Linked DNA regions of Homo sapiens. The protein of the gene in region 3 purifies or fractionates together with the protein of the main gene of each other region. This does not show direct contact. Each region holds a gene or a part of one and is shown on either strand. Other genes may lie near its edges.

Region 1 (7,434 bases), on a different chromosome or scaffold from region 3:
ACCAAAGTGACCAACATAGTGAAATCCCATCTCTACTAAAAATACAAAAATTAGCTGGGCGTGGTGGCAGGCACCTGTAATCCCAGCTACTAGAGAGGCTGAGGCAGAATTGCTTGAACCCGGGAGGTGGAGGTTGCAGTGGGCCGAGACGCGCCACTGCACTCCAGCCTAGGTGACAGAGCAAGACTCCGTCTCAAAAAAAAAAAAAAAAAAAAAATTTAGCCGGGTGTGGTGGCACACGCTGGTAGTCCCAGCTACTTGGGAGGCTGAGGCAGAATAGCTTGAACCTGGGAAGTGGAGGTTGCAGTGAGCTGAGATCCCGCCGCCGCACACAGATTTGTTTTAATGAAAGGAACTGTTGTCTTATTCCTTCCAAAAAGGCAACAAATTGCAGAACCAAATTAAGAGTCTGAAAACTAAACCACAGGAATATTTTAAATACTGTACTCATTAAAATGCAACATTAGGTACATTTACTGGGCTCCAAGAGCAAGAGGCCAAGCTCATTCCCTAAAATACATTTGGCCAAGTGGCCCAAGGTGGAAACATTGTCAACAATGTTGCTTCCCTCACCTCCCACCAATTCTGATTGATTCTAACTCTGAAAAGTTGTTAAATCATTTCCTAGTCACTATTACCAATGCCATAGCCCTACCTGAAGATTTCAACGTCTTTCACCTAGACTACTGTTTACAGTTTCCTAGCCGGACTCACTGCCTCTGGTCTTCCCCTACTCCAATCTAGCACCAATTGTGACAACCAAAATGTCTCCAGCATTGCCAAACATCTCCTGGAGGTCAAAGTTGCCCTGACTCAGAACCACTGCTTCAAGCTGTTCCTACAAGAAGAATATTACTTATTTGTTAAGATTCTGGCCACAATCTATGTCAGTGGAACAGAAACCAAAAAAACTAACAAACATGAGGTTGAAATTTAAAACCTTAACCTTAGGACTGCCATGCTTAAACAAAATTAGCTGACACCTCATAAAAAGGGCCATAATACTCTTAAACTCCTTTGAACGTATAGACTTAAATCATCTTACTTTAAGCCTGAATTATGAAAAGTCTGTACCTTCTGTCAAAGTTTAACCACCATATATACATATTTAAGCTTCTGGATATAGAAAATTATGCAAATTTTTAAAAAGGACTTTGCGCTTTAATCAATCCCCTTCAGAAGCTGAAAATAGTAAACTTCTTAGGCAAATTACTGCCTACACCTAAGTTTGCAAGCCACTCTGAACAGTATTCTCATTAAATACCTCCAGAAAAAACTCTAAAAACACAAATTCTTATGCTTGAAAACCAGTAAGTTTTTGAAAAATCACACTCCTTTTAAATTTCCCACAATGGTTATATCCCTACAAAACTCACTCAAAGATGTTATCTGAGATACAACAGTACCTTTCAGAGGGGGTAAGAGATCTAAAAAACTTGGAACTTTAAAGGCCAGACTGAGCAGGGTAGCAGTATCACAGGAGAAAGCGCCTTCTACCAAAGACATCAAAATCCGTCCAGACACTTACCTTCAGGCGTTTGATCATCTCGTCCGTGGTGATCTTGTCGGTGATCTCTTTTACCCCCGGAGGGTAAGCGATCTTCCCGTCGGCACTCACGACGCCACAGAGGGCAGTGGCAGGCTTGGGCTGCGCGGTGAAGTCCATCCTGGGGGACAACTTTTGGTTCACAGTCCTCTACCGGCCTCTATCGGTCAGAAAACCAAAGTTCAGCGGGAAAGGGGCGACTTTGTAACCTCTTTTTTCATTTCAAATCTCTCTAATCTGGAAAAGGCCCTGTCTCCCCAGAGGCCGGGGACCCGGCAGCGGCCTCGCCACCCGCTCTTTCCCAGGGATCGAACCCCGCCGGCCCCGCCAACCCGGCCCTGCCAGCCCCAGGCTCACGGGGCTCCTCCGCACCAGCCGCCGTGGCCGCCGAACAGCGCCAGGAGTTTCCCATTCCGCCTTTCACAATGAAATCCACCCCCGAGCACCAGGGTCCGAAGTTTGGCGGCCCCGGGAGGCCGGCAAGGACCCCAAGGCCCCCGCTCGGCGGTGGGGAAGCACCCAGTCCCGCCCGGCCAGTCCCCTCCGGGAAACCAGACCCGAGGCCTATAGGGCTCGGCTTAGGCCGCAAAACTAGGGACCCAGCGGACCCACGCGCAGCGGCGGCTGCCGGGAACAAAACGCCCTTGCCCAGCCGAGCCTCGGACCCGGGGTAGTCCCCGCCGCGCTGCCACCCCTCCCCTGTTCCGCTCCCTCACCCCCGCGGGAGGGGAAAACAAGCCGCCCTCCACCCTCAGCCCCACGCCAGGAAGCGGCTGACGCGCCTCCGCACTTCACATTTTGTTCCTTCAACTTCGGCTGAGGGACCCCAGCTGCTTCTCTGGCCCCCGGCCGCTTGGCGCCTCCGGCACCGCCGAGGCCTTCCCGGCACCCTCGGGCGGCCCCACCGGGCCTCGGACCCGCGGCCCCCCCCTCCAGTCTCCCCTTCCGTCCCCTCCCTCCAGCAGCCTAGGGCGGGAGCCGAGCCGCCGCCGCCTTTACCTCCTCCTCATGCGGGCGGAAGGTGCATCGAGCGCCCGGGCCTCTGTCAGGTGGTTGCGCCGCCGCCCCTAGTCGGGCTGCACACAAAGCGGCTCCGCGGGTCCCGCCGCCGCCGCCGCCGCCGCCCGCCCGCCCGGGAGCGGCGCTGGGGCTGGCGGTGCCGAGGAGGAGCAGCCGCCGCGGGGGGAGACGCGGGGCGAGTGAGCGCTGGGCGGGGAGACAGTGCCGCTCTCCGTCTGGCCGAGGAAGAGCAGCCTCGAAGGCTCCTCCGGGAGTGTGTGCGCTTGTGTCCGTCCGGGACCCCCGCGGCCCGCCCGCACGCACCTCGCGCCGGCCCGGACCGCCGACTCGGACCCGGACGCCCCTCGCAGAGGCGCGCGCCCGGCCGTCCGTGCCCCGGGAGCCGGGGCCTCGCGCACACACCGGCCGGTCACGCGAGCGGCGCGAGAGCACGCGAGAGCAGCGCGCGCTCCTCGCTCCCTCCCCTTCCTCCGCCGGCCGTGCATCCGCCTCCCTCGGGCCCGAGGCGGCCGCGCGCAGGGCGGACAGCGCCGCCACCCGGTTGGCGCCAATACCTGCCGCGCGGGGCGCCTCCCGGAGGACCCGACCGGAGAGGGCGAGAGGAGGAGGAGCCCGGGTGGCGGGAAGCGAGCCCAGGTTCCCGCGGCCTTGCGAGGGCACGCAGGGCAAACAGTGCTTTATCTTTCGCAGCGGCGATGAGCTGGTGACTTTTGGGGGTCATCCTGAGGGACATAGACGAAACTGGTTGGGAGGTAGTTAATTGCTCGGTGAAAATGAACTGATTTCCTCCTCAGGGAGAGATCTGCAAAGTCAAGGAAAGTTGTGCAATGGGGCGCAGCGTGAGCGGCTCACTCTCGGGTCTTCTGACAGCCACCCGAGTTGCCCACCCTCCTTAGATTTCTGAAGTTAATATTTTGAAAGCTGCAAAACATGAAAATAGCATTGGGTCGAGTCGTTCTCAAGGTATGGTCTTTGGGCCACCAGGCCTCACAATCACTTTGGGTACTGGCTGAAAACGTAGGTTTCCAACTCCAAAGATTAAAAAACATAAAAATATATGTTTTTTTAACGTAAAAATATATATGAACATAAAACATATAAAAATATAACATATAAAATAAAACACTAAAAAATATAAAAATATACATAAACATAAAAATCTCTGAGAGTGGAACCCAGAAATAAGCATTTATTAATTGGGTGGGTGATTCTTGTAAATAAGGAAGAGCTCATTTTTTAAAAATGTTTTAAACCTACCAAGCATTAACGTTTTCTGTCATCCAAAGGAAAACCACTATCAGGTAAAAACAGTGCACGCAGCAGTGTTTGAGCAATTTAATGTATGTAATTGAAACAAATTAACGCAAGAACATACACTTACCTATTTAAAAAAAATCAAGAGCATACACAAAATTTCCGAAGAGAAAGTTGAAAAAAGGATACGATAATATGAAATCACATTCAGCTCTTGAAACTGACCACTACCATAGTTTAAAATGATATTCGATTGTTTATTCAAATTATTCTTGATGGGTACCCATTGGTCTATTTTTTTCCCACATCCTTTAACGTCAACTTAAAAATAGTAAAGGTACTGCATTTCAGCTCACTGACTTGTTTTTGACGTATTACACAAGAGCAGTCATTGCGAATCTGACACTCCACAGTTGCTGATTTGCTAGAACTCTGCCCAAAAGTCAATGCTTTGTTCTTGGGCATTTACAGTACCAGGCAGAATCCATTTAAAAGTGTCCTCATCCAAACTATTAAGTGGACCAAAAGCTGCTCTCTTTTTAGGCTCTCCCTGTCACTTTTGATATTTATTTTTTTCTTTTGAGACGGAATCTTACTCTGTCACCCAGGCTGGAGTGCAGTGGCGTGATATCGGCTCACTGCAAGCTCTGCCTCCCGGGTTCACGCCATTCTCCTGCCTCAGTCTTCCGAGTAGCTGGGACTACAGGCGCCCGCCACCACGCCCGGCTAATTTTTTTTTTTTGTATTTTTAGTAGAGACGGGGTTTCACCATGTTAGCCAGGATGGTCTCGATCTCCTGAGCTAGTGATCCGCCCGCCTCGGCCTCCCAGAGTGCTGGGATTACAGGCATGAGCCACCGCGCCCGGCCAAATTTGATATTTCTTTGTGTGTTACATTTAATTAAACAACAATGATTTTATCTTTCATCCTCCTCAGTAGCTTGCCCATTATTAAATGGAGTTTTGTATATGTACATATATTTTATTTTATTTATTTTTTATATTATTTTATTATTTTTTGAGATGAAGTCTCACTTTGTCGCCCAGACTGCAGTGCAGTGGCATGATCTCGGCTCACTACAGCATCCGCCTCCCAGGTTCAAGCGACTTTTGTGCCTCAGGCCCCCAAGTAGTTGGGACTACAGGTGTGTGCCACCATACCGGGCTAATTTTTTTTTGAGACAGAGTCTCCCTCTGTCGCCCAGGCTGGAGTGTGGTGGTGTGATCTTGGCTCACTACAACCTCTGACTTCTGGGTTCAAGCAATTCTCCTGCCTCACCCTCCCAAGTAGCTGGGATTACAGGCGCCCGCCACTATGCCCGGCTAATTTTTGTTATTTTTAGTAGAGACAGGGTTTCACCATGTTGGTCAGGCTGGTCTCAAACTCCTGACCTCAGGTAATCTGCCCGCCTCACCCTCCCAAAGTGCTGGGATTACAGGCTTGAGCCACCGTGCCTGGCCTTACTGGTTGATTTCTTTTTTTTTTTTTTTAACATGGAGTCTCACTCTATCACCAGGCTTGAGTGCAGTGGTGCGATCTCGGTTCACTTCACCTCTGCCTCCCAGGTTCAAGCGATTCATCTGCCTCAGTCTCCCAAGTAGCTGGGACTACAGGCGTACACCACCACGCCCAGCTTATTTTTATATTTTTAGTAGAGATGGAGTTTCACCATATTGGCCAGGCTGATCTCGAATTCCTGACCTCGTGATTTGCCCGCCTCGGCCTCCCAAAGTGCTGGGATTACAGGTGTGAGCCCCTGCGCCTGGCCTATTTTATTTTTTCGAGACGAAGTCTTGCTCTGTTGCCCAGGCTGGAGTGCAGTGGTACAATCTGGGCGCACTGCAACCTACGCCTCCTGGGTTCAAGCAGATCTCCTGCGTCAGCCTCCCAAGATCTGGGACTACAGGCATGCGCCACCACGCCTGGCTAATTTTTGTACTTTTAGTAGAGACAGGGTTTTACCATGTTGGCCAGCCTGGTCTCGAACTCTTGACCTTAGGTGATCCACCCACCTTGGGCTCCCAAAGTGCTGGAATTACAGGCATGAGCCACTGCACCCAACCTCCACCAAGCTTTTCTTCCCCGCTCAGTGCCCAAAACAATGCCTTATATTATAGGCCTCTTTAAATAATTGTTTCACAAATGAAGGCCTGCCCTCCTGGTGGACCTTAATTTGTTTGGGGAGAAATAGACCAAAATAACAATAATACATGTATATGAAAATAAAGTAGGGAAGAGTTGGGCACGGTGGCTCGCACCTGTAATCCCAGCACTTTGGGAGGGGGAGGCAGGCAGACTATTTGAGGTCACGAGTTTCAGACCAGCCTGGCCAGCATGGTGAAACCCCATCTCTATTAAAAAGACAAAAAATTAGACTCAGTGGCTCAGGCACGGTGGCTCAGGACTGTAATCCCAGCACTTTGGGAAGCCGAGGTGGGTGGATCACCTGAGGTCAGGAGTTCCAGACCAGCCTGACCAACATGGTGAAACCCTGTCTCCACTAAAAATACAAAAATTAGGCAGGCGCACTGGCACATGTCTGTAATCCCAGCTACTAAGAAGGCTGAGGCAGGAGAATCGTTTGAACCGGGGAGATGGAGGTTGCAGCGAGCTGAGAAAGCACCACTGCACTCCAGCCTGGGCGACAGAGTGAGACTCCCTGGAGTGAGAGAGAGTACAGATCACATGTAGCCTTTTAGACCTCTGGTAAGACTGTGGCTATCCTCTGATTGAGGTGGGGAACTAATGGACTGTTTTAAGCAAAGAGGTGATATGATGTATGTCCTGAGTTAGGCAATGTTGGTCAAACCACTTAATTCTTCTGTGCCTCATTTTCTTCATCTGTAAAACAAGGATAATGATAGTATCTTCCTCACATGATCATTATGAGGAATACATAACTTAATTTTTTTTTCTGTCGCCCAGGCTGGAGTGCAGTGTTGCAGTCTCGGCTCACTGCAACCTCTGCCTCCCAGGTTCAAGTGATTCTCTTGCCTCAGCTTCCCTAGTAGCTGTGATTACAGGCACGCACCACCATGCCCAGCAATTTTTTGTATTTTTAGTGTGATGGGATTTCACCATGTTGGCCAGGCTGCTCTTGAACTCCCGACCTCAGGTGATCCGCCCGCCTTGGCCTCCCAAAGTGCTAAGATTACAGGTGTGAGCCCCTGCGCCTGGCCATAAGTTAATATTTGTAAAATGCCTAGAATAGTAACTCGCATATACTAAGCTCTACATAATTTTTTTTAATAAAATAAAATAAAAAAATCAAAGAGTTTTATGTGGTTAATAATTGCACAAAGGGGTGGCTTTGTGAGTCTTTATTCTACCTCCCACATAATTTCAATCAGTGTCCCCCTCACACATACATTCAGTTATATAATCTATGTACAAAATTGCGTCCAATGCAATTTGAGGACAAACCCCTAACCCCCAATTTCACTACAGCTCCTTCTATATACAAATTCTAGAGCTCCTGACCAACATGGCAAAACCTCATCTCTACTAATATATATATATATATTTGCATATATATATATATGCAAAAATTAGCCTGGTGGGGTGGCGCACACCTGTAGTCCTAGCTACTTGGGAGGCTGAGGCATCAGAATTGC
Region 2 (7,023 bases), on a different chromosome or scaffold from region 3:
TTAAGTAAACAGGAAGAGTCTCATCCTGTGTTCTTCATAAGGTTCATAGTGCAGGGCCTGGCACATAGTAAACACCCAGCGAGTATTGGCCACTATCATTATTTACCTTCTTTGGGCTGTAGTTTTCTCATCTGGAAAGTGGAGTTTATGGTGGGTTCTGCTCTGCTTGCCGCTTAGGGCTGTTAATTTGCATGAAAGTATCATAAGTCCATTTCATTTTTATACATTAGCCACAGCAGAACGGGATCTCTCCGCGCATGTTTAAGGCCTTTGTAAGCAAGAGCCACCCGGAATTCTCCTCTAACAGGCAGCAAGATGCCCAGGAATTCTTCTTGCACCTGGTGAATCTAGTAGAGGTGAGTAGTCAGTCTTCACGGATGCTCAGCGGGGTTGTAAGAGGGTGCCGAGCCACTCAGTGCAGTCTGCTGTGGCTTGATCAGAATGCCTCCCCACTCTCTTTCTTCAATCTCTCCTGTTAAAGCTGGTTCAGAATCAGATCCCTGGAAACTCTCTGCTCAGCCAACTTGATGTGACTGCTCTTCACACTCCAGTTTCCAGACACTTGTGGATCTCTGTGCTTCTTTTAACCTGTATGTGTTATAGGAGTGCTTGCCAGTTATTCCATTCACAATTTATTTTTTTCTGGTCTTTGTGACAAAGTTCCTTAAGAGCCCTGCGTGGTATTTGGTGTCCTCCTGCCACTGCTCAAAGATGATGAGTCTGCTTACATCAGAATCGAATGCCATTAAAAACTTTTTTTTTTTTTTTGAGACTGAGTCTAGCTCTGTTGCCCAGGCTAGAGTGCAGTGGCACAATCTTGGCTCACTGCAACCTCTGCCTCCTGGGTTCAAGCAATTCTACTGCCTCAGCCTCCTGAGTAGCTGGGATTATAGGAGCCTGCCACCACGCCCGGCTAATTTTTGTATTTTTAGTAGAGATGGGGTTTCACCATGTTGGTCAGGCTGGTTTTGAACTCCTGACCTTGTGATCCACCCGCCTCGGCCTCCCAAAGTGCTGGGATTACAGGTGTGAGCTGGAAAGCCACTGAGAATTCCTGAGTAAAGCCTTTTTTTTTTTTCCTGGTTACAACAGTGTTCTTTGTGGAAAATATAGAAAACACAAAGGAGAACATCAAAATCCCCCTTAATGCCACGCCCTGCAGCCAGCCAGTGTTTTTTGTTTGTTTGTTTGTTTGTTTGTTTTTGTTTGTTTGTTTTTGACAGAGTCTTGCTCTTGTCGCCCAGGCTGGAGTGCAGTGGCACGATCTTGGCCCACTGCAACCTCCGCCTTGCAGGTTCAAGTGATTCTTCTGTTGTTTGTTTCCTTGTTAGAACTAGGCTGCAGTGGTTTCTCTTGTCTGCCTCAGGGTTACTGATTCACATGTCTGCTCAGGTCCATGATCTTTTCTAACTCTGTTTATCATTTATTAGTGATAACTTTTTTTTTTTAGAATAAAGCCTCCCGAGTAGCTGGGATTATAGGCACCCACTACCATGCCTGGCTAATTTTTTTGTATTTTTAGTAGAGACGGGGTTTCACCATGTTGGCCAGGCTGGTCTCGAACTCCTGACCTCAGATGATCCACCCGCCTCCGCCTCCCAAAGTGCTGGGATTACAGGCATGAGCCACTGTGCCCGGCCAACAGCCAGTGTTCACAGGTTGGCATCTGCCCCTCCCATCACTTTCCAGGTCTTATGTTAATTCTCTACATGCTCTTCTGTAAGCAGTGTTTTCACTTAAATGTTTGCCACATCATCACATCTGTTAACAGAGCATAATTTCTGTTTTATTTGTACCTAATTTACATGAGTGTATTTATATAATCATATTGTACATGTTTTTATGTTTCCAGGGCAGCCCTTTATTTTTTTCCCTTTCTCTTTTGATTGGCTTCTCCTCCTCCTTTCTTCTCATTCCATGAATTTCTCTCCCATGGTTTTTAATTTAATAATATTGAAATAGTAATCCATGATGAACTATATTTTATTTTACCAATCCCCATTTTTGGACTTTAGATAAATTCCAGTGTTTTTCTATTAAAGTGCTTTGGTGAATGGGCATGGCCAGAGGAAATGTTTAATAAAGCCAAGTGTTTACACCGGGTTTAGAGTTCATTTTCTACTAAGTCTTAGTGGCTCAATATTCATACATTTACTAACCTGATACAATCCATCCTTCAGAGGAACCGCATCGGCTCAGAAAACCCAAGCGATGTTTTTCGTTTTTTGGTGGAAGAACGCATTCAGTGCTGTCAGACCCGGAAAGTCCGCTACACGGAGAGGGTGGATTACCTGATGCAGTTACCTGTGGCCATGGAGGCGGCAACCAACAAGGGTAACAATTCCAAAGCGGGAAATTGGTACTGTGTGTCTTCATATGGGAAAACCCTCAAATCAGAGAGAATGGTTTAGTCACTGAAGTGTGTCAGGAGTAGACCCAGCCCAGGTGATGTCTGCTTTGCACATCTCTTTTCATCTCTTTGTTAGTTCCCATGTGACTTTTCCTTTGAGAAGAATCAAATGCATCACAGGTTTTATGGAGGCGTTATGGTTGGAACCTACGTCACTGCCTATAAATTTGGCCAACTACTGAATATGGAGTCAGCATAATTTTGGGGAAAATTATTGGTAATGATGTATGTAGAAAATTCTTTAACACTGTCATTTATAAGTTGTGCTATAAAGTCTGAGGGAAATGATCAGGACTGCATTTTTTAAAGTTAGACATTCGAGCAGAGGTCTCTTGAAATAATCCAGCTTTGGCACATGAGTATTTGAGCCACCTCTTCTGGGAGATAAATTGTGTCAGGGTTCTTTGTAGAAGCAAAGCCCATTAGAAGGGTCTCTGGGCTTTGGAAGAGAGAAGGAGGCAGAGATGTGGCACTCATGTTTGGTGCCTTCTCCTTCCATCAGTCTAAGCTGGTTCTTCCTAGGCAGAATAGACAAATGGCATTTCTTCGAATTAACATCGTAGAAGCAAAAAAGACAAAATAGCTGCTGGATTGTGCATCTCCTGTGAACTAGTCATTTTTGTAAAGTTCAGCAATTCCACTATGCAGCCATGAAAAGGAATGAGATCATGTCCTTTGCACATGGATGAAGCTGGAAGCCCTCATCCTCAGCAAACTAACACAGGAACAGAAACCAAACACCGCATATTCTCACTCATAAGTGCGAGTTGAACATTGAGAACATATGGACACAGGGAGGGGAACATCACACACTGAGGCCTGTTGGTGGGTGGGGGGAAAGGGGAGAGAACTTAGAGGACAGGTCAGTAGGTGCAGCAAACCGCCACGGCACACATATACTTATGTAACAGACCTGCACGTTCTACACATGTATCCTGGAGTTTTTTTGTTTTTTGTTTTTTTTTTTGAGAATAAAGAAAAAAAAATTCAGCGGTTCCCTGGATGGCCCTTTTTGCTCTTTCTTGTGTGTGGGGGGTGGTGGGTCAGTTTATGATGTTAGTTGGAAAGTGATGATTATGATGATTTAAGATGAAACGATTTTCATTTTCTATATGCTCATGCAGTTTTTGATCAGTTTCAAAATCCTTTTGGTGTAGAAACAAGGGAATGGGAGTCTGCTGTTTGTTTCCTTGTTAGAACTAGGCTGCAGTGGTTTCTCTTGTCCGCCTCAGGGTTACTGACTCACGTGTCTGCTCATGTCCATGATCTTTTTTTAACTCTGTTTATCATTTATTAGTGATAACTACTTTTTTTTTTCAGAAAGGAGATTTATAATTTAGTCTCTGGAATTTGACTGTTGGGAACACCTAATGTTAGCAACCTAGATATAAGTACATCATAAACTGATTGGGGACAGGGGAATGAATTTTAAACCATCTAAGATGTGTTTAGGAAAACACATATGTGCGTAAGTGTACCTACAAACTGATAAATAAGGAGTTTTTTTTTTTTTTTTTTTGAGTAATACAAAAGAAATGACCAGAAAGGCCATTCAAATTGACATAAAATTTTGACTACAGGCTAGTTTCCAGGACCAGATCTGCTGGTGCTTGGGAGGTTCCTCTTTTTCCCTTAGTATTTAATCATTTGAGTAGGAATAGCACAGAGGCCTTCTGGGTTGGTAGCCCTGATGTCTGAGGTGTTGGGTAACCTCCACAGGAAGTTGTCTCGGCAGTGTTGGTTACTGTCATGGGTTGTTTGATGGTGGCTAACTGCAGTCCTGTAGTTATCCTCCTCCTTGGCCTCACAGGGACCCATGTGGGACCCATGACCTCTAATCATAGTTGCTGGTGGAACCAAATCAGAAAATGTGTAACACTCGATCTGGCTCTTGCCAGGCGCTTAGTGGTGGTTCTGTTTTTTTTTTTGTTTTGTTTTGTTTTTTTCTGCCTTTGGTTATTTTATTTTAAAACAGCTTAAAGTTAACAAGAATGTTTTTGTTACTTTTGTGTATGTGTGTGTGATCATTGGCAAAAATTGATCCCCTTACACAATGTAACATCTCTTTCTGGCCTTATCTGTTGGGTTGTGGAGGGAGTGCTGATCAGAGTTTTAAGTCCAGCTTTGCCAATAATTGGCTGGTTTTGACTTTGGGCCTCAGTTCTTCAGCAAGGCAGTGAAGGACTGGGAAGACGTGAGCCCTTGGACCTTTTCTGGCTGTGAAATACTCTGATGCGAAGGCCTTGTGTTGGGAGGATGGCATTTGAATAATCCCAGTATTGGCCTTTGGACAAACCAGGTTCATGGGCATTTATATCACACACATGGTCTGGCCCTCTCACCCACCCAGGCCAGGCCAAGCTCACACTTCCCTCCTGTCAGTCGCAAAGGGGAGCATGCAAAAAGATGTAAATGGCTTGATACCACCTGTTGGTGCAACTCTAAAGACAGCCCCAGAACAGCCTTTCAGCAGGGGCATCTGGCTCTGTAAAGGGCGACAAATAAGCAACTCTGGCCCAGCGCAGAAGCCTTCAGGGAAGACTGTCCAAAGAGGGTGCTTTTCATTTCCACAGGGTAAGAGCGATTGCAAGGTCTTTGATTTGCTCTTTCACCCAGATGAACTGATCGCTTATGAACTAACGAGAAGGGAAGCAGAAGCAAACAGAAGACCCCTTCCTGAGTTGGTACGTGCCAAGATACCATTTAGTGCCTGCCTTCAGGCCTTCTCTGAACCAGAAAATGTTGATGATTTCTGGAGCAGTGCCCTACAAGCAAAGTCTGCGGGTGTGAAGTAAGTGTGTGTATATGTGGTGGCAGTGGGGTGAGGAGGGGCCTTGAGGGGTGGGGACAGGGGTAAGGGAAAGGGGGTGGGTGTTATTTGTGTCTGTGTGTGTTTGTTCATGTGTGATGGATGGGATTATGGTTCACACACCCTAACTGTCGTCAAACTTCACTTGTGTGAGACCTGTCCAATAAAACAGGCCTGTGATTTATATTACGTGCTAAGGAGGGGTTTTCTTTTTTCTTTTTTTAAATGTAAGGTTGTGATTTATTCTCTATTAGGAGCCTTCCTTCCTTCCTTCCTTCCTTTCTTTCTTCCTTTCTTCCTTCCTTCCTTCCTCCTTCCCTTCCTCCCAACCTTGACCCCACCCCCAGCCCCTCTCTTACCAAGAGGATACAGCCAAGAAACAATCCCCTACCCGCAAATGGCAAGAATGACATTATTCATGAAGAAATTACAAAAATGCTGAAGACAGGCCTCCATATTTAAACTCCATTGTGCTATATTTTAACTCCATAATTAAAGACTTAGTCTAGAACTTGGTTGGCTATGTTTCTCCTTGGAGACTAGGAGTCTCAGGACATCTCAAAGTGGACAGGAAGTCTCCTGAGCATTGTTGAAACGAGCCGCTCAGGGTTTAGTCAGATGTCTTGTTTTCACATTGTGAGGCTGGTTGTCAGACACATAAAAGTTTTTTTTTCTCCGTCTGCCACCCTAGTTGATTTGATGCAGTCGAGTCCTTGCCAACACACTTCATATCACTGCACTTAATTGGAAAAAGAGTGCTTGCAGTGGCATAAAACAAAGGGAGGTCTGAAAGTTTGGCTCCAGGAGTTTTGCTACGTTCAGATATTCTTTGGCCATTTTTCTTTGAGGCTAAGATTGAGATTTTGGCTAACATAAAGGGGATTAAAGGATGGAACGGCTGGTGTGGGCTGTTTTTACCATGGCCTCAATAGCAGTTCAACCTATATATATATATATAAAATTTTATATATAAAATGTATATATATAAAATTTTATATATATACATATAATATATATAAGTATTATATATATTTTTTAGAGGGAGTCTCGCTCTGTCACCCAGGCTGGAGTGCAGTGGCATGATCTTGGCTCACTGCAACCTCTGCCTCCCAAGTTCAAGCAATTCTCCTGTTTCAGCCTCCTGAGTAGCTGGGAATGCAGGCACATGCCACCAAGCCCGGCTAATTTTTGTATATTTTTTTTTGTTTTTTTTTGAGACGGAGTTTTGCTTTTGTTGCCCAGGCTGGAGTGCAGTGGCACAATCTCTGCTTGCCACAACCTACGCCTCCCAGGTTCAAGTGATTCTCCTGCCTCAGCTTCCCGAGTAGCTGGGATTACAGGCCTGTGCCACCATGCCCGGCTAGTTTTGTATTTTTAGTAGAGATGGGGTTTCTCCATGTTGGTCAGGCTGGTCTCGAACTCCCAACCTCAGGTGATCCTCCCTCCTTGGCCTCCCAAAGTGCTGGATTACAGGCATGAGCCACCGCACCCAGCCAATTTTTGTTTTTTTAGTGGAGACAGGGTTTCACTATTTAGCCAGGCTGATCTGGAACTCCTGACCTCAGGTGATCTGCCCTCCTCAGCCTCCCAAAGTGCTGGGATTACAGGCATGAACCACCATGTCCGGCCTCAACCTATATTATTTGTTCTCTGTGAAACCCCTCCCTCAGGCTTCTGCTATGTTTCAGATTGTAGAGTTCATATGTTAAAAACAGGAAAGCAAAAACAATTTATTTCAAAAAGGAAAAACAAGCCATATTTGTTAAAATTATTTTTAAAAAGCTCCCTATCCAAGGGAGATTAA
Region 3 (7,023 bases):
CTCATCTGTAGGCTTCACCTGTGGGGAGAAGCTCAGTCAGTGGCAGAACACAAACAGGGAGTACTAGAGGAGGGGCCCTTGAACACTGGCCTGACCCAATCCCCAACAAGCCTCACCTCCAGGTAGTCAAGAGGCAAGAAGGTCTCAGGCTCCCCACGCTGCTCCTTGATATACTGAATACAGTCCCGGCCTGTCTTCTCCGAGTCCACAATAATGGCATCCATGTTCTTGCCCAAAACCTTGGTTACAGCAATCTGATACTTCTTTTGTGTGGGCTGGCATAGGTCAATGAGGCGGCCGTACTGAGTAAAGTAGGAAGGGAAAACTGAAGTATGAAGCTTTTGGAAGCTGGCTCAGGAATCCTAATTCCCAGTATGGAAAGGGGGACAGACTAGAATCTATATCAGGAAGTGAATGCAACTGTATTGCCTAGTGGTTAAGATAACCCAATACCAAGCATGGTAGTGTGTGTTTGTAATCCTAGCTACTTGGGAGGTTGCAATGGGAGGACAGCTTAAGCCCAGGAGTTCAAGACCAGCCTGGGCAACATAATGAGACCCTGTCTCAAAACAAACAAAAAAGACAGCCCACTAGTTCTGTACCCATGCAACCCTACCCTATCTGAATGAGACTGTATGGACTGAGGAGGAGGCAATTGCAGACTAGCTTGCTGTGTGCACTCCAGATCAGCACAGTGGCCAATCCTAACGTCCCTTTGAAAGGTGGAAAAGTTTGGGTAAGAGAAGGGAGGTAAAGAAATGAATAAATGAGTTATGTAATGAGGGAAACTCAGTATTACATTAACACCTCAAAAGAGGTTCAGAGCAAGAGATGATATTGTCTCTTAGCACAATTATCCCAGATGCCTGAAAGTATGAAGCTATGTTTGCCGAGAACACTCCTGGTTTTGGAACCTAACAAGATTGAATAGAAGCCTGCAAACCTGAATGGCCTCACCCTAGGAGACATTTTTACATGACATGATCATGGACTAGACTAATTATTAATTAATGACTCAGTGGGATTCTAGTAATGTGCCAGTATCTTTCTACTCTTTTTTGGAGACGGAGTCTCACTCTGTTGCCCACGCTGAAGTGCAGTGGCGCAATCTTGGCTCACTGCAACCTCCACCTCCCAGGTTCAAGTGATTCTCCTGCCTTAGCCTCCCGAGTAGCTGGGATTACAGGTGCCCGCCACCATGCCCGGCTAATTTTTGTATTTTTAGTAGAGACGGGGTTTCACCATGTTGGCCAGGCTGATCTCAAACCCCTGACCTCCGATGATCTGCCCGCCTCGGCCTCCCAAAGTGCGAGGATTACAGGCGTGAGCTACCGCTCCCAGCATCTTTCTATTTATTACATGATTGTTCTGATGTAAGGGATCTGTGTTTGAAGATCAAAGTGGACTGTGGTTTTATGAAATATATATTTAGTCTTCTACCCGTGAGTTCCTGACACACAACTCCTAAAACCCTTAGAATCTCAGGAATGAGCAGTGTCTTTTGTATGTTAATGAGATGATTATGGCTGGAGGCCCATAGATAGCTTCTGGATAGGGGCTGGTTACCAGAAAGACCAAGGCAGGATTAGATTTGGGACTCTTAGCTCCACCCCTACAACCTTCAGGAGGGGAGAGGGGCTGAAGGTTGAACTGATCACCGATGGCTGATGATCTGATCAATCATGACTACATAATGAAGCCCCTGTGTGGGGGTACCTGGAGGGTGGCTTGCCCAGATTGGGCATGGAAGCTTCACATCTCTTCTCCCATACCTTGCCTTATGCATCCATCTGGCTGTTCTCTGTATCCTTTGTAATATCCTTCATAATAAATGGGTAAACATAAGTAAAACATTTTCCTGAGTTCTGTGAGCTGCACTAGTAAATTAATCGAACCCAGGGAGGGATTCTCGGGAACTGTAATTTATAGCAGGTCAGTCAGAACCACAAGTCACAACCTGAGACTTGCAATTGGCACCTGAAGTCTTGGACTGAGCCCCTAACCCACAGGATCTGATGCTATCTCCAGATAAATAGTGTCAGAGCTGAAGTGAATTATAGGTCACCCAGCTGGTGTCTGCTGGAGAATTGCTTGGTGTGTGAGGAAAAACCCCCACACTTCTGGTGTCAGAAGTGAAGTGTTGTGCTGGTTGTGAGAGTAGAAAAAACACTTTGGTTTTTTCCTATCTCACAGAAGAACACAGCCCCCATGCTATCAAGGAAAAGCCTATTCTGGTTCCCAAGCAATGACTTCAGGCAGTCGTGTCTGAATCCAGAATCATCTTTCTAAACCTCACATCTACCATTTTACAGACCACCACCACCCAGGCACTATGCCAAGTATCTTATATATATTATTTCAAATTCTCACAAGCACTTAGCAAAATAAATCTGGCTGGGCGTGGTGACTCACGCCTGTAACCCTACCACTTTGGGAGGCCGAGGCGGGCAGATCACTTGAGGTCAGGAGTTTAAAACCAGCCTGGCCAACATGGTGAAACCCCGTCTCTACTAAAAATACAAAAAAATTAGTTGGGCATGGCGGCGAGCACCTGTAATCTCAGCTACTTGGGAGGCTGAGGCAGGAGAATCACTTGAGCCTAGGAGGCAGAGATTGCAGTGAGCCGAGGTTGTGCCACTGCACTCCAGCCTGGGCGACAGAGCGAGACTCCATCTCAAAATCAATCAATCAATCAATCAATCTCTTCTACCAGTTCCCTTCCTGCAGCCTCCAAAACCAAGCCTGGTTCCCTAAGAACTATCAGATTAAGGGGGCAGGGACTGACTCTAACCATACTTATCTCCCCAGCAGTGTCTAGAGAAGTGATAGGGAAATATTAGTGGAACCAAACTAAGTTGAACCCAGGTATGGGATAATATTCAGGGAACCTGGGAACTCAGGATTTGGTGAAAGAGGCCAAAAGATCAAGAGATCTGATAAAGCTCAGGGTGTCCCTAAAAGCTACTGGACCAGTTAATACATGCCAAGGGAGCCCCTTTATAAGACTGCACAGAGCTACTTCCTGGGAGAGTAATTCCAGCCCCATGGCCCCACCTGCTTCCAAAATCTTTCCTGGTTTTCCAATTCCCCTCCCAGAGGCATAGACATAGCAAGACAAAACCTTCAGAAAGACGCAATTGGTATGATGAAAAGAACATGATTGCCTAGTATGACAGGTTGAAAAATAAAAAAAAAAAAAAAAAAAAAAGAACATGAGCTCAGGAGAACAAGTTGGGTTTGAACTGCAGTTCTTCCTCTTAGAAGCGGTGCTTTTTTAAACCTCTCCGAGCCTCATTTCCCCCAACAATAAAAATGGGATTGGCAACCCTGTCCTTACAGGGCTGCTGGGAAAATCGTGTGACAGTGAGTGTAAGTGCTCAGGAAATGAGTTCCCTCTCTGCTCTTACCACAGAGCCAGGGTAAAGGCGCTTGATGCTTTCCATTATCTCTGCCTTTCGCTGCTGGCGGCTGCTCTCCTGGCGGTCGATGCGGGCATCCCCTAGCTGCTCCATCACCTGGTTCAGCTCCTTATTGATTTCATCAATACGCCGCTTGGCCATCTCCACCTCCTCTGTCAGCTCCCCCTCTAGCTTCTTCTGCTCTTCTAGGGACTGCCTACAAAGTGAGGGCACACAGGAGTTACTCCTGCTGGTGAGAAAATACTCCTGGCTCAGAGAGCTCTGGGGGTCCTGCATGAAGAGGGGCATGTAGGTAGGGTCACAAGAACAGGCCTGGAAGTAAGGGGGACAGATGCAGAGCTACATACTTGCTAGTGGTGATGTATTCCTCCAGTTTCTCAATCCGCTTCTGATTCTCTTCAATTTCCCGCAGCTTTTGCTTGATCTTGGCCTGGGAAACAAACATTCCATCATCAGGGGCTGCACGAGTTTACGCCAAGACCATGGGGGCTCTAGATCACACCCTTTATGTGCCCACTCATCCAAGAGCCGAACAGTCCAGGACAATCTGTCACTAATATAGGAGGCCTACTAAAAAGCAGACATAGATGGTGTTCGGTTTGATCTACTAACTAATGATGGGGGCCTCCCAGAGCTCCAGAACCTCTCATAGGTGTTCTACCCAGCCAAGGCATCTTCTTCACCAACCATGGAGGCTCAAATCAAGATAAAGCTTCACAGGCCTTTCTGTACCTGTTTCCTCATCTGCAAAATGTGGGTAATCTCCACTGCATAGAATACACATTAAGTGCTTAATATAGGGTTGTTATTAATATTAATGACTATCACATTATTTTTAAAAAATTTTTATTATTTTTTAAAATTTGAGACAGGGTCTCACTGTGTTGCTCAGGCTGATCTCAAACTCCTGGCCTCAAGTGATCCACCACGCCTGGCCAACATTCTTTTAAATATTTAAAAGTGCTTAGCAGAATGCCTGAACACTGTACACTCCTGGGACACTATGACAACTTTCTATCATTGCTGTTATTACAATATTGATATCAGGGAGGCAGTAAGTAAAGTATATTTGGTAAGAGTGTGGGCTTTAGAGCTACAATGCCCAGGGTCTGGTTCTGATACTTAATAGTTATGTGAGTGGCCGGGCACGGTGGCTCGCGCCTGTAATCCCAACACTTTGGGAGGCCAAGGCAGGCTGATCGCAGAGGCAGGCAGGAGTTTAAGACCAGCCTGGGCAACAAGCAGAAACCCTGACTCTATAAAAATTAAAAAATTAGGAGGCCGAGGCGGGCGGATCACTTGAGTTCGGAAGTTCAAGACCAGCCTGGTCAACATGGTGAAATCCCATCTCTACTAAAACTACAAAAAATTTAGCCAGGTGTGGTGGCACCCACCTGTCATCCCACCTACACGGGTGGCTGAGACACAAGAATCACTGGAACCGGGCTGGGTGCGTTGGCTCACACCTGTAATCCCAGCACTTTAGGAGGCCAAGGCGGGTGGATCACCTGAGGTCAGGAGTTCGAGACCAGCCTGACCAACAAGGTGAAACCCCGTCTCCACTAAAAATACAAAAATTAGCCGGGAATGGTGGCTGGTGCCTGTAATCTCAGCTACTTGGGGAGGCTGAGGCAGGAGAATTGCTTGAACTTGGGAGACAGAGGTTGTAGTGAGCCGAGATGGCACCATTGCACTCCAGCCTGGGCAACAAGAGAGAAACTGCGTCTCAAAAAACAATAAAAATAAAAATAAAAAAATAAAAAGAATCACTTGAACCCGACAGGCAGAGGTTGCAGTGAGCTGAGATCATGCCACTGCACTCCAGCCTGGGCAACAGAGTGAGGCTTTGTCTCAAAAAAAAAAAAAAAAAAAGTAGCCAGGCATGGTGGCAAGCACAAGTAATGCTGGATACTCAGGAGGCTCTGGTTGGAAGATTGCTTAAGCCTGGGAAGTCGAAGCTGCAGTGAGCCATGGTCGCACCACTGCACCTCAGCCTGCATGACAGAGAAAGACTCTGTCTCAAAAATAACAATAATCTTGTGACCTTAGGCAAATTACTCTGTGTTGTAATTTCCTCATTCATAAAATAGGGTAATAGTAGCCATTCCATAAAGATAATAATAAATGAAGAATTAAATGAGTGGATACATGTAAAGAACATTGCCTATCATACAGTAAGTGCTCAACAGATGTGAGCTACTGTCATTATCATTGTCATTATCATTAAGATTATCATGGCCAGGCGCAGTGGCTCAAGCCTGTAATCCCAGCACTTTGGGAGGCCGAAGTGGGTGGATCACAAGGTCAGGAGCTCGAGACCAGCCTGGCCAACGTAGTGAAACCCTGTCTCTACTAAAAATACAAAAATTAGTTGGACATGGTGGCGCACGCCTGTAGTCCCAGCTACTCAGGAGGCTGAGGCAGGAGAATTGCTTGAACCCGGGAGGCAAAGGTTGTGGTGAGCTGAGATCACATCACTGCACTCCAGCCTGGGCAAGAGCGAAACTCTGTCTCAAAAAAACAAAAAAACAAAAAAAAAGACTATCATTACAGGTTGGGTAACTCTAATCCAAAATGCTTAGGACCGGAAACGTTTCAGATTTTGGATTATTTTGGATTTGGGATGCTCAACCTATATATATCCTTTTCTGTGGACCATCATCCCTAATCTTATAACTATAGCCCACCTCTGTCTCTACTTTCTTCCGTTCTTCCAGATCCAGACGGTCCTGGTCAGCTTTCTGGTCTCGATTGAATTTCTCCAGCTCCTGGGCCAGGGTAGCTGCTCTCTTGCTGGCTTCTTCTTTCAACCGGTGGTATTTCTTCACCTGTGTTAGGGACAGGGAAGGAGAACAGGGATGACCAAGTCAGCAGATGTCAGCCCAGGGATCTCCTCCCTGCCAACCCCTTCCAGAGCTTACCTGATTCTCCTCCAACGTCAAATCTCTGCCCTGACTCTGACTCTCTTCTTCCATCCGTTCTTCAAACTCCTGCCGAGCCTTCTCCACTGACAGCATCTCCTTCTCCAGCTCATCCATGTCACCTTTACGCTTCTTGTAGTGCTTCTGAGCATTCTGCAGAGACTTCTTGGCTGCTTCCAGCTTCTTGATTTTGTGGGAGGTGTTCTCCTTGGCTTTGATGTACTGAGGCCGCTTCTGGTTCAATTCTGAGTCCTTCTCCCTTTTGCCAGAGGGGTGGGGGAAACCAGTGAGAACTATGGAAGAAGGGAGGGTTCCCAGGCTTTTCACCCAAAGGAGAGCTTGAGCCCCTGAGCCAACCTCAGGGAATTACTTAAAAGAACATGGGCGTAATGCCCCACAGATCCTGAAAAAAAGGGGCAGTCTGACTACTCCCTGAAAGGTATGACTTCAGCCTGGCATTCCAGCCACTCCATAAGGCAAAGCTACCAACTCTGCCTCAACCCTGGCCAGGAAGCTCATTAACAACTCCCAAGAACATCCTGTATTTACTTAGTTGGCCCCTCAAATTCCTATCCTTTAAACTTCTAGCTTCAGTTTCCTCTTCTAGGAAGGCCTTCTCAGCCACTCCATTGGCTCGGCCTCACATTGGTTCCTCTTTCTTGGCAAGGCCACCACCCCTTTTG

Evidence for each region. Proteins that work in one complex are often made in the same cells at the same time.
Region 1: the proteins of SMC1A (region 3) and PDS5A purify together in Homo sapiens (co-immunoprecipitation; 8 studies listed by BioGRID and IntAct, with this or other methods). This does not show direct contact.
Region 2: the proteins of SMC1A (region 3) and USP13 purify together in Homo sapiens (affinity purification with mass spectrometry; 5 studies listed by BioGRID and IntAct, with this or other methods). This does not show direct contact.

The regions. Positions count from the first base shown.
Region 1 is NC_000004.12:39,974,912-39,982,345, forward strand, and holds the start of PDS5A (sister chromatid cohesion protein PDS5 homolog A), read right to left. Parts: upstream 3,001-7,434; 5' UTR 2,546-3,000; intron 2,358-2,545; exon of another isoform or gene 2,337-2,357; intron 1,707-2,336; 5' UTR 1,667-1,706; coding exon 1,529-1,666; intron 1-1,528. UniProt on the Homo sapiens protein: Probable regulator of sister chromatid cohesion in mitosis which may stabilize cohesin complex association with chromatin. May couple sister chromatid cohesion during mitosis to DNA replication.
Region 2 is NC_000003.12:179,740,017-179,747,039, forward strand, and holds part of USP13 (ubiquitin carboxyl-terminal hydrolase 13), read left to right. Parts: intron 1-230; coding exon 231-356; intron 357-2,180; coding exon 2,181-2,334; intron 2,335-5,026; coding exon 5,027-5,201; intron 5,202-7,023. UniProt on the Homo sapiens protein: Deubiquitinase that mediates deubiquitination of target proteins such as BECN1, MITF, SKP2 and USP10 and is involved in various processes such as autophagy, endoplasmic reticulum-associated degradation (ERAD), cell cycle progression or DNA damage response.
Region 3 is NC_000023.11:53,405,655-53,412,677, forward strand, and holds part of SMC1A (structural maintenance of chromosomes protein 1A), read right to left. Parts: intron 6,600-7,023; coding exon 6,341-6,599; intron 6,248-6,340; coding exon 6,107-6,247; intron 3,850-6,106; coding exon 3,767-3,849; intron 3,616-3,766; coding exon 3,408-3,615; intron 303-3,407; coding exon 117-302; intron 112-116; exon of another isoform or gene 19-111; coding exon 1-18. UniProt on the Homo sapiens protein: Involved in chromosome cohesion during cell cycle and in DNA repair. Central component of cohesin complex. The cohesin complex is required for the cohesion of sister chromatids after DNA replication.